3 separate regions of the Homo sapiens genome follow, and all the other regions are reported to be linked to region 2. The links are microRNA targets in miRTarBase. Many come from high-throughput screens and were not tested one by one. Region 2 holds a microRNA gene; each other region holds the end of a gene's coding sequence.
The links. Region 2 holds the annotated microRNA hsa-miR-6861-5p (ACUGGGUAGGUGGGGCUCCAGG, at 2,504-2,525, opposite strand). A microRNA usually pairs through its seed, bases 2 to 8, with sites in the 3' UTR of a target mRNA and lowers its output. Matches are read on the target gene's strand: a 7mer-m8 pairs with bases 2 to 8, a 7mer-A1 pairs with bases 2 to 7 and ends in A, and an 8mer does both.

Region 1: miRTarBase lists NIPA1 as a target of hsa-miR-6861-5p. Seed matches in the 3' UTR shown: 7mer-A1 at 181-187.
Region 3: the mRNA of MLX is a reported target of hsa-miR-6861-5p. Seed matches in the 3' UTR shown: 7mer-m8 at 976-982 and 7mer-m8 at 1,955-1,961.

What each region holds. Positions count from the first base shown.
Region 1 is chr15:22,823,985-22,828,105 of GRCh38, reverse strand. It overlaps NIPA1 (NIPA magnesium transporter 1), which reads right to left. Exons shown (of 5, transcript NM_144599.5): 5 at 1-4,121. The coding sequence ends at 3,867. Among named protein-coding and RNA genes, the nearest start is that of NIPA2, 13 kb to the left of the region's middle. RefSeq lists an enhancer at 465-1,217.
Region 2 is chr12:112,160,792-112,164,934 of GRCh38, forward strand. It overlaps MIR6861 (microRNA 6861), which reads right to left and starts at 2,530; the gene lies at 2,467-2,530. HECTD4 (HECT domain E3 ubiquitin protein ligase 4) reads right to left here. Exons shown (of 76, transcript NM_001388303.1): 73 at 3,318-3,484; 74 at 2,751-2,946; 75 at 2,251-2,473; 76 at 1-1,732. The coding sequence ends at 1,596.
Region 3 is chr17:42,570,855-42,574,997 of GRCh38, forward strand. It overlaps MLX (MAX dimerization protein MLX), which reads left to right. Exons shown (of 8, transcript NM_198204.2): 8 at 693-2,349. The coding sequence ends at 749. PSMC3IP (PSMC3 interacting protein) reads right to left here. Exons shown (of 8, transcript NM_016556.4): 4 at 3,245-3,356; 5 at 2,624-2,769; 6 at 2,457-2,510; 7 at 2,253-2,312; 8 at 1,456-2,170. The coding sequence ends at 2,114. Among named protein-coding and RNA genes, the nearest start is that of PSMC3IP, 4.8 kb to the right of the region's middle.

The DNA.
Region 1 (4,121 bases), not on the chromosome of region 2:
AGAACAACTTCAGAACACGGAAGCTAATCCATGCTGTCGGGAACAGACCTTACACTGAAATGTTCTCTTTCTAGTTTCCTGCTTGGTGGCAGGAAGCCTAAGTCAGCATCGAGCAGGTGTCAGGTCGAAGCGGCACAACGGGAGGGGCTCTGGGAACCACCGGAGTACTCTCTCCCCTCTTCTGGGTTAGCTGAGCAGCTTGAAGAAGAGGAATCCCCCGACCAGACAGAAGGGCAGCAGCCTGTGCCCATCACACCTGTTTCCACGGACCAGGTGTCCGTGCACACCTGGGAGACACTGCATCTCCAAAGTCTAGAACTGGCCCCTAGAAGTTGAGCACAACATTTACAAAGAGCTGAGTCATCTAGGAAGAAGGAAAATAAGACGACTGCACAAGTGAACAGTGCTCACTTCTACCAGAAAACAGATGTGAAATCCAAAGAAGAACAAACACCAACATATTACCGCTGGGATGAACTTCTGGAAAGACAACTGGGTGTAGTAAATTGGCTTGAAGAGCAGGAATTGAAAGAATATTCCTTATTGCTGAACAAAGAGCTGCGAAGTATATTCACTAACATTCTGATAGGAAAAGATCTCAATGAGAGCTGAGCAAGGCCACCAGAATACCAAATTCCTCCCCAAAGTCCCCAGCATGGGCAGGGCCTCACTCCATGTGGCACTGGAAGGACTTCCCTCCCCAGCACCTTCTCCACAGAGATGGCATGGTCCTGCCAGCCGGGAAGATGCTCCAGGGGGGCTTTGTGGTGCTGGGTTAGGGTTAGAATCCTTAATTGGCCCTACCTTTGATCAATGAGCAGAACAGGAAGCAATCCTTTCAAATGCAAATATTCAGAGGAGAAAACAAGGCATTGCCCAAGAAGAGGAGAGAAATAGCCTATTTAAGTATCTATCAAGAGAAATCTGCATATTGTGATCAAAACCTTTGATTTTAGAGGATGCTTGAAAACAAGTATACAGTAAGCATCTTTTTTTTCAAAGAATAGTATGATAATGAAAATATTTCAAGTACATGTACTTTTGGAAAGACCACTAAGAGATCTATCCATGTTCTAGGCCCTCCCCCAAAGTTCTCACTTTGGGGCTTTTTCATTTTCAAATGAATGATGAAAACATAATTTTTTAAAATAAATACTATCAAATCAGAAGTTATATGCTCTATATTAAATTTGAAAATTAGACTGTTCAACCACTGGTCATGTCATTTACTTTGAGGCTGGTGTCACGTGCTTGAAAAACAATGGATGATATGAACTTTGTTTCACTGGAAGAAAAGCTATGTATCCTACTGAAGTATCTGCTGAACAGAGGTAAACCTGAAAGATTCTAACTGTCCCAGGACCAGTCACCTTCAAGGGTAGAAGAGCTATTAATACTTTTGAGATTTTGTTTTACTCTAAGAATATTATAGAGAAGATCATCGGGTATCACCTCTCAGTATCAATGGTATAATTGTGGATTAAAATATACTAAGGTACACCAAGAGCTGCCTTTAAACTAAATTTCCCACAAAAGCTGTAGCAACACAAACATGATCATTTTCATGTGACACATGAACTTTCTCATTACACTTGTTAGCCACATGTATTCTTTGAATATCTCACACCCCTTACCTAGGAAACTATTTTTATGCCCAAAAGTATATTGATACTGCTACATTACGTTTTCAGAAAGTTCAGTTCAGTAAGTTAAGGCCTGCATTTCTAAAAGCACTGATGATAAAACACAAAACCTGCAAGAGCCAATAAAAAGAGTAATGGACTTTGAGCATTTGTTAACCATCCATTGAGAGGATTTAAGATTTTTAAAAAATAATGTTGTTGCTGCTCTCAGTTCACAAATCACTGACAACCCATGATCATCATGTACACGTTTACTCCATAAAGGTATTTTTCTCTCTATATTAAACTAGTCTCATTTTATTTAGCCTCTTTACTCAACACTTTAGGAAGCTATTCCTTGAGACTTTAGAAATGTTCTTTTTGCCTACAAAAACACATTTTTTTTCTTACTGAGGAACTTTAATTGGGTACTATTCAATTTTATGTTCTACTTCACCTAATCTACTTTACCCAACCCCATCTTTCAACTTGGCGTAGTTCCCTGCTGAGATAAAACACTGGCCATGAAGTACATGATACCGTGGTGAAATATGTGCATCACTTCATGCTATGCTCCCATTTGGAACACATGGATGGGAACACTATAGACAGAGAATGACCTCTTTGATTCAAATACTGGCATAATTAATGGCTCTTTTGCATTTAAGACACATAATGAGAGGTTAGCTGAGGAACTCTAGGATGCTCTGCCATTGCAAACAACAAGGAGATGGCTACATTTATTGGCTTTTTGTTAGAAAATCTTTCAAAAACTGCATATTGCAATTTGTAGAAGCTAGCCTAACCTCAATTGTGTCCTTTAACTTGTTCCTGTATGACAGGGTACTCGATATATGAGCTATTGAACAGGTACTCTCCCACTTAGCCTTATTATCAAGTTACCTAATTTATTTCTTCTGAATGGCCATGAATGCTTGCTGATAAAGAATGTGGATATATTTGATACTGGATCCCAGGTAACACAGATCGAATACAAATAAAATAATACCTCATGCTACTTAAATCAACTGTCTTTAATTGGACAATAATCACATGTTAAAGGGGTCAATTTGCTCTAATGTGTCTTTAGTCTTGACTATCTTCCAGTGAATATACAGTCATGAACCACGTAACCATGTTTCTGTCAAAGACATACCACTTACATGACGGTGGTCCCATAACATTGTAATACCATAGTTTTACTGTACCTTTCCTATGTTTGTAAACACAAATACTCACCACTGTGTTACAATTGCCTGCGGTATTCAGTGCGGTCACATGCTGTACAGGTGTGTGGCCCAGGAGCAACAGGCTGTACCATCTGGCCTGGGTGGGTCATAGGTGTCCCATCTAGGTTTGTATAAGTGCACTCCATGATGTTCACACAATAAAGTCACCTTACAATGCATTTCTCAGAATGTTTCCCTATCATTAAGTGACATGTGACTGTATTATTTCTAACTGCCTTATACATTTGTAACTTGAATATTGAAATATTAAAGCATACTCGAAGTTGCATTATTCTAATCTAAGAACATATACACATTAAGAGTCAAATTAAGTTAATAATTCAAGTGATAAAGGCACTGAAATTGATTTGAGCTATTGAAAAGTCATCCTGCCAGTGGAACACTACCTCATGTTCATTAACTCTTCTCTCTCTCTCTATTTACTATTAAAATGTCTTGGGTGGGGGTGGGGGTCGAAGAGTCAACTTGTCAGAGGATTAAAAACAATTCAATGTATATGCCTCTTATTTGGATGACATACTTGAATGTTATACATGCTTAATGCAAACTAACACAACTACAGACACATTCACTGTACAGTGCCAGAGTTCAAGACAACAATCTCTCATTCCCAAAGTAATCTAAGTAAAAATATCTCTGCTATCATGTAACAACTAACCAGAAAGAGCCCATCTTTTTCTGTTTAAATAATGTTAAAATGTTTTAAAAGAAGAGAATATTCATGAAAGCTTCCAGGTTAATGGAAATGAAAATGAGATTCGTCTCATCAGAGAGAGATGGTGCCAGGCAACCGTTGGGGACGTTTGGGCTGCAGAGGGCTGGCTGGGCCTCTGCTCTGGTGCTGAGCCATGCTCCCCGCTATCCACCAGACCACCTGTTACTATCCAGTCAATTCTAACACCATGATCGAGGACCTCTTCTACTTCACATCCAATCACGGCCAGAAACCACCTCCAATGCCTATTCCTCGAACCATCCAAGCTCCTATTGCAATCTAGTCTGTTTTCATATTAGATTTGTTCATCTCCCCAAGGTTGAAATTGAACTCTTTGAACACCTGTATAAGGACAATCCCCACGGAGACGGTCGTGAATCCACAGGCCATCCCCAAGAAGTCCACCAGGCCCACGTTGCTCCACTCCCGGAAGAGGATGGCTGAGGCCAGCAGGACCAGCGTGGTAAACACGACGTAGTAGATGGCCCCGAACACCGAGGAGTCGAAGCACTCCAGCGCCTTGTTGATGTACCT
Region 2 (4,143 bases):
TGTGGCCGCTGGGGAGGCAGCGGGCTGACCATCTTCTTTCAAAGCAGGGGAACTGCTTGCGGGCACTCACCTCCAGAGTTGACTTGCATCCAATACAACTGATGCAGCTGTCATGATTAACCCTAGGTCGATTTCATCCTTAGGTCAGGGGATCCTTTCTATAATGGTCCTTGATGCATTTCCTAAGAGTTACAGGGAGGAGATGGATGCTAACGGCTCTATCTCTAGAATTCACAATCTTTCCAGCAGGCCAGGGCACATCTTCTTTCTTGGACCAGCATCCACACTCCAAAACCTTCTAGACAGCACTCACTCAAAACTTCCAATATTCACAATATTATACAATAAATACAGCGATGTGATTCTGTGAGACCTGGCAAGGCCCAAAGTGACAGTGTCCAACAAGATGGCCTGTGCTGCTCATGAACAAAGTACCACTGGACAAAGACCTATTTGGGGCAAAGATGCAGTGGGTGAGCCTGGAGGCAGCTCAGCCCTGGCATACACACTTACATGGGGTGATGGGGAGTGCTGGGTGGGGCTGGCCAGAGGGGCAGAAGGACCCCCCTGGAGTCTCCATCTGGACTTGAGTGTCTGGGTCACTAAAGCAGACCCCAAATTGAGCAGAGCACCTCAGTCCACTCTTTTGAAAATGGGTGTGGCCCTTTCCCTTGTCCTACGTCACTGCAGGGAGGAAGGGCCATTTCTGAGCATTTTGTGCTCCTTTTTTGTGGGGTAGGCTTGAATCATGTGCTTTCCTCTCAACCAGAGTCTCGGAGGAGGCCCCCACCTGAGCATTGTCCCCCATCTCTGGGTGTCTTCTCACCCCCTGCGGCTGGGATGCACCCAGCTAGGCTCTGTGAACTAAGGTCGGGATGAACCCTTAAGTCTCCTGCTCCCGAGGAGGCCTCAGATGAAAACTGTCAGACCAGGGCCCAAAGAGACAGACGGCAGATAGGGAGGTATGGGAGGGGCAGGGGAACCACTGTGGGCTTTTCCTCAGAAAAACCAAGACCGGGAGCAAGTTCTAAAGCAGGAAGATGAACACATAAAGCTCCCTGTGTGTCTCACGTGTTTGGGCAATTGGCCCAGCCACCTCTATGTGGAGGGAGGCCTGCTGGGGCTGCCTCTGGAGCAACTCCAGCTCGAGGCTGGAGGGCAGGGCTGGCCACAGGCTTGTCTGTGGAGGCGCTCTGCTGAAAGCACGAGCGCTCTGTGTGGCCGAGGTCATTGTACCCCCGGCTTCCTGCTGGGTGGTTCTGTGATGGGGAACCAGCTGGGGCCTTATGGCATTAGAATCTGGTGGCCATGAGGGACAATGTCCAAGAAGATCAAATTAGACACAAACTGTCTGGGAACTAAACTATCCTACAAATAGACCACAAACAGGCAGCAAAAGAACCAACCCATCACGAAACGTACAAAGACAAAAGGTTAAGTCTTCCAGGAGGCCCTGGAATGTGGACGAAAGTTTGGAAAAGCAAAATGTTGCCAACTCCTCACGCAGGGCCCTGGAGGGACGGGCCGCAGTGGTGGCTTCCCAAGCCAGCAGAGTGGGTGCCTCAGTGACAGCCTAATTCTGGGGCTCCCTCCCATCAGCCACTGAGGGGGTCTTCACGGTAGTGAATGGCACAACGAAGTTTCTCCAGCATGATTTCCAGAGAGGAGTACTGGGGAAGCTTGATCATGAACATGCAGGTCTCCACGCGGATGTAGCGAGAGTCTGGGGAACCTACAAGAAACCGAGCCAGCATCAGAGGGTTGGGCCCACATCTGTGAGGCTCCCAGGGAAGCTGGGCTGGCCTCTGCTTCCAGGTTTGCCTCCTTGGGTAGCCCCAAGCCAATCCTGGGGCCCAGCAGGAGGGGGATGAGGGCCTGGGAACCTGCGAGATGTTCTTGGAGGGAAAAGGGGAGAGAGCTGCTGGACAGCGCATGTGCCAAACTGCTGATGGGTTTGTCTGCCCAGCAAATTGTTTCTTTTTTTTTTTTTTTAACCATTTTTCTGCATTTAAAAGTTAGAAGATTTGAAGCATTCTGGATTTTCAGCTTCTTTTAAGATATGAGAAAGTATCTAACAGCAGGCCTGTATGGCTGGTTCCTGCCGGGCCCTAATCCTCAATGATGTCTGAGTTTTGGCACGTGGGGCTCCTGTTCATTGTTCTCCCTTCACATGGGGCCTGGCAGCCCCAGTTCCAAACAGAGAAAGGCTAGTGTGTCCCTACTTGGGACATGGCCAGGGGAGGGCGGTACCTGCTGTGCCATCTGGGGGGGCGATCTTCATGGGGTACGGGGGCACATGGGCAGTGTCGGGACCCCCATCTTTGCAGGGGCAGGTGAACGGGATGCGCTCCTGGTTGCAGGCAAACTTGATGAACTTGCACAGCTCCTCCTGGGTGAACATCTCCAGGGCCCCCCAGAAGAACTCGATGTGCTGGTCCGTCTCCATCAGCCCCACTTGGTACATGGTGTGGGCCTGGGGAGGAGAGGTCCAGGTGTCAGGAGCCCTGGAGCCCCACCTACCCAGTGCCTCCCCAGCCCTGGGGTCTGCAGGCCAGGCCCAATCCTGGGGCAGGGTGCAACGTGTGGGCTGTGAGCACAGGGAGATGACAATGATGACAATGATACAGGTCTGTGGCAAGGACAGAGCTGAGACAGGCCACTGCCGATGCCTGCTGCTGGAGTTGAGGGTGACAGGGAGGCACGCCTGGGGCTCACCACCTCCCCGCCCAGCCTGGCCCTGGGATGTCTACCTTGAGGAACTCGAGGTTGATGTAGGGGAGGCCGCAGGTGCGCAGCTCCATCTCCAGTGGGCTGAGCATGGTCAGCAGCTGCAGGGGGATGATGGAGCCCAGGCCGGCCCGCACGGCCGTCACGCACTCCACATTCTGCAGCTCCCGCAGCCGCAGGCTCCGGATGGCTGCCGCGTAGATGTCCTTGTTCTCCCACCTGCCCGGGTGAGGAGCACAGGTGAGGGAGAACACCGCCGAAGAGGCTGGGTCTGGGGGCCACACCCACTCAGCTGGAGGTCCCGGATCCTCTCTTGGGAGAGGCCTGGGGCCCAGCCGCCCTGGTCATCCCAGTCCTTTCCTGCCTCTGGTGCCGCCGCCTCAGAGCTGCTGTTTTCTTAGTAAACCCCTTCTGCTGAGGACCCTCTTTCTTGGCACCCACCATCCTGCCTCATCTCCCTCTCCTGGTGAAATCCACCTGTCACCTGACCTAGGTCCTCGTGTCATTGCCCAGGAACAGATGCTGCTGTCATACCCTGGCTGGCTGGCCGGGCCAGCCCCTGCCAGCCCCTGACACGCGCACACACTCACGCCACAAGGATGTGCCGGCCCCGGCTGCACAGCTCCACCTCCTCGCCCGTCATGGTCAGGTAGGTGAACCTGCAGCAGGGCTTGTTGGGGCTGTCAGGGCTCTCCGTGGCCAGGTGCTGGGAGGCGATCTCAGCGCACAGGGCCTCCAGCTCGGTCTCATCATTGATCTGGAGGGTGGAGGCAGAGCGAGGCTCATTATGAGGCCATGGGAGGTGGAACCCTGATCCCCAGGTGGCTGGGTAAACCCCAAGCGCAGCTGGTGGGGTCTACCCTCGGCCGTGTAGATGAGCATGTGACACAGCTTTCGCCAATCAGAACCTGCCATCAGTTCAGGGCCGGGCGTGTGACCCAGGCCAGGCTAAAGAGACCCACATTCCAGGCCTCTTCCCACGTCTGTTTGGAGGCAGCGATCCTCTCTCACTGGCATGGACCGACTATGATGGGAAACCCTTTACCACTGGAGGCCACCTCTGCCCGTGCGCTGGGAGAGACTGCTTGAGGCTAATTATGCTTGCTTTTTTTTTTTTTTGAGACGGAGTTTTGCTCTTGTTGCCCAGGCTGGAGTGCAATGGCGCAATCTTGGCTCGCTGCAACCCCTCGCCTCCTGGGTGCAAGCAATTATCCTGCCTCAGCCTCCCGAGTAGCTGGGATTACAGGCGCCCACCACCATGCCTGGTCAATTTTTGTATTTTTAGTAGAGACTGGGTTTCACTATGTTGGCCAGGCTGGTCTCTAACTCCTGACCTCAGGTGATCTACCTGCCTCAGCCTTCCAAAGCGCTGGGATTACAGGTGTGAGCCACTGCACCCAGACCGCTTTTTCTTTT
Region 3 (4,143 bases), not on the chromosome of region 2:
CCGTGTTAGCCAGGATGGTCTCGATCTCCTGACCTTGTGATCCACCCGCCTCGGCCTCCCAAAGTGCTGGGATTACAGGCATGAGCCACTGTGCCTGGCCTCGTTTCCCAACATTTTTATTGTGAAACACATTAAACATATTGCGATGTTGAGAGGAGTTCACAGTGAACACTCGTATACCCGCTCCCTAAATTTTACCGAAACATTTTACTATATTTCCATCTCTCCATCTTGCTTCAGGAGCACCTCAAATTAAACTGCAGACATCAGTACTTCCTGGGGGCTTTTTTTTTTTTTTTTTGAGACGGAGTCTCACTCTGTCACCAAGGCTGGAGTGCAGTGGTGTGATGTCAGCTCACTGCAACTTCCACCTCCTGGGTTCAGGCGATTCTCATACCTCAGCCTCCTGTGTAGCTGGGATTACAGGCATGTGCCACCACACCTAATTTTTGTATTTTTAGTAGAGACGGGGTTTCACTATGTTGGCCAGGCTGGTCTTGAAATTCAGGTGATCCACCCGCCTTGGCCTCCCGAAGTGCTGGGATTATAGGCGTGAGCCACCACACCTGGCCCCCGGGGGGCTATTTTTAAAGCACTTTTCTAAAGTACATGGCTGATCTAGGCAGGCATCTTGGAAACTACTCTGCGTTGACTTGGGCATTGTCTATTTCTTCCTCTGCTGCCCTCGCCAGACCCTGCGGGAGATTGTGATTGGCGTCCTGCACCAATTGAAAAACCAGCTTTACTGACCGGTTCTTGGAAACCTGGAGAACAGCCAACAAGAGGCCCTTGAATCTCTACGTGGCCACTGAACTGCTGGGCCCGGGAGACTGGACTACAACACCTCACACTGGTCAGCTGGTTTCTACTTGGTGTTTGGTTTTTCCCAGCCCCATTTTATCTTCAGCGGAGCCGCGGTGTTTGTTTTGTGAAAGCTTCTGATTAATTTATTATATTGACGATAAAACTCAAACCTACCCAGCCTTCCCCCCACTCCATGGAAGTCCTTGGGATGGGCGTCTGCTCTGGACACCCCAAAGAGCTCCTGCCCTCTCAGCCCTTTATTCAAGCCTCAGATTTCTGCTCATGATCTACATAGATTTGGAAACTGTTTTCCTCTGTTTTGGTCTCTTGGGCAACATTTTTGGCCCAAGTTTGGGCAACATTTGGCCCAAGTTTGGGCATTTTGGCAGTAGCTGTATGGGAGAAAAAGAGTAAGAGGAAATATTCCCACAGCCATGAAGGGTGAAAGGGCACCTTGTGCCTAGACTAGGGCTGCCTGGTCAGTCCCAGGTGAGGCCAAGGGCTTTCTGGCCATCTCAGGGAGGGGCCACCAGGTTCCTCCCCTCACCCCATATTCCATCACCTTCCTCCTCTGCTCTGGGTGGTAAGGGAAGCCCTCCCGGTTCCCACAGGCTATGATGCTGCATGGCAGAGGCAGGTATAACACAGCACTACATATTGGAAATTTTTTATTTTTCTAAATACCAATGCAGTTTTGCTACGGTTACAATTTTGAAATATTAACTGAGCCTCAAAATCACCCTTTCTGTCAAGCATATCTTGGCCTCTCCCATGTCTCAGTGTTGCCTGCATTTCTCCCAGGACTTGGGGGTGGGGTGAAAAGCGTACAAAAGATACTTAAAAGGGCTCCTGGGGTACACAAGCCCAGCAGGTCCTGAGTGAAGCCGTGGGCCCTCCAAATGCTCGTTTTATAGCAACCTCTCTCTACCCTAGTTCTCCAAATTCACTTCTGCCTTCCTCAGGTTTGATATCTGGCAGGTTTGACTATCCAGAGGAAATTAAATATTTTTATATAAAATTAAATTATAATAAATATTGCCAAATGCTTTCCTTTAGCATTGTTCCAAGTCTAAATGTTAACCTCAAGCTACTGCAATTTAGACAATGAAATGGGCTGGGTCTACCCCCAGCCACCAGCCCTCATCCTCTCTACCCAGTGCTCTGGTTTATGCTTGTCTCCTGACTGCTCTGCTTAAAGGTGAAAGTAGCAGGAACAACAACAAAAGCCAACCAAAAACAAGGTAGCCAGTGCAAGACATCTCACTCTTCTGACATCCTGCAGTCCCCACCAGTCCTGACCGTGGGCCCCTCAGGGGTCTGGGAGTGTGACGTTGTAATCTTCATCCGTCTCTATCCCAACTTCCTCCTGTGAGACAGGGAGACAAGTGAATGAGATGTCACCAGGATAAGACCACAGGGAAGCAAAGAAGGAAGAGAGCTCCACTTACAAAGAACTGCTTCTTGCTCTTGGGGTATCCTTCAAGTATTGCATCAGACAGCTCTGTAGCCTGACAAGAAATAAAACCACCCGTTTTCAGATGGGCAGCACTGGGCACTGCCTGTCAGTTTATGATATTGTGTAGCGGCTGATCTGGTGCCTGCCATTTTCAAAGGCACCTCCAGGGCCTGTCTCGGAGCTCCCACACACTTACCATCCTCTTCCTCTTCCTCCACTCCTTACAGTACTTCTGCCTCTCTCTGTACACCTAGAAGGAAAAAGCAAGTTCCTCTAACTCCTCAGAACCACAGCAGCCCTCTGGGGCTCAGCCCTGATGTTCACTCTGGACCTGCACAGCGGTCCTACAGCCTTCCAGCTCACCTGCTCTTTCTCTTCTGGAGTCACATGATTGGTAGCTGCTTTAATGTTCTTCAATCTCTCTCTGTAGCCAGCGCATTCCTTCTTTAACTCCTGGATTTCTTTCTGCATCTCTGGTGTGGTCAGGGCACTAGATAATTCCTTGAGCTCTGAAACCACATCCGCCTGGGGTCACTTGCTACCCCTGAGGAAGGAGTTCTGTCTTTCCCAGTGGGTGCTCCCTGAGGTGTTCCACCTTGCTCTGGATCTATCATCTCACATGGAAACTAAGCCATACAGGATTATTTATTCTTCTAATTTTCTTTCCTCCTCCATCTACAAGTGGCGTGGGTGTGAGGTTGAACACTTACTTAGGCGTAGCCAGTTAAAGAAGCAGGAATAAAGGGAAACGTGGGGACAGTGTACTGATAATCGTGGCAGGGAGAACAAATGCGTATCTTGTCCATTTGTTGGTACACAAAAGCCGTTAGTTATCCTACATTTCTTTTTATGCCTAAGGGAGCCCAGCAAAGGGGTCTTAGCTGCAACAAGATGCTGCAGTCATTGAACCATTCATTTAGTAATTCCTGACCTCTAGAATGAACCTAAGCCTATGGGCACTTTGGAGGGGCTACCCAGTCCTACCAGCCTCCATGTAGCGGCAGCTCTGCTGCAAGCTCTGCACCTTAGCAGTGAGGGCCACGATTTTGCCATCTAGGACTTGAAGGTCAGCATCACTCACCATGTCAAACTGGTCCTGCCAGACAAAGAGGGAAAATACAAGTGAACTGTTGTGAGGCACAAAGATGGGAACACACACCTGGGAAGGCACCATTTGGATATGCTCAGGAACCAGCCACACCCCAAAGTCTCCAGAGGGTCTGCAGAAATAGTGGGAGAGTACTTTTGAGAAATTGTTTTCAGTTAAGGAGCGGCCCCACTAAAAAGGTAGGAAAGAAAAGCTGAAATCTAATGCTTGTCCTTAAGCTACTAGGTTGACAGGATACTGATTAGGACAGAAATCTTCCCATTTAGTGATAAAACCACTACCTGGGCTGAAGCAGTTAAGTAACATTGTTCCCACGGTGGGGAAACCTAGATCATGGGTTTCCATAATAGATAGAAACTGGACAGGTGAAGAAGCATGATGGATGGGATGGATGGACTTCTTTTCTTCTTCCTTCCTGTCCTTTCTTCCCATCCTTCTTTCCACCTTCCTCTCTCCCTCCTTCCTTCCTTCCTTTTTCCTCCCTCCCTCCCTCCTTCCCCCTCCCTTTCCCTCTCTCTTTCTCTCTCTTTCTCCCTCCCTTCCCTCTTTTCCTCTCTTTCTTTCTCTGTCACCCAGGCCAGAGTGCAGTGGTGCAATCTTGGCTGACTGCAACCTCCGCCTCCTGGCTTCAAGCGATTCTCATGCCTCAGCCTCCTAAGTAGCTGGGATTACAGGCGCGCACCACCAAGCGCAGCTAATTTTTGTATTTTTAGTAGAGAAGGGGTTTCACCACGTTGCCCAGGCTGGTCTCAAACTCCTGGGCTCAAGTGATCCA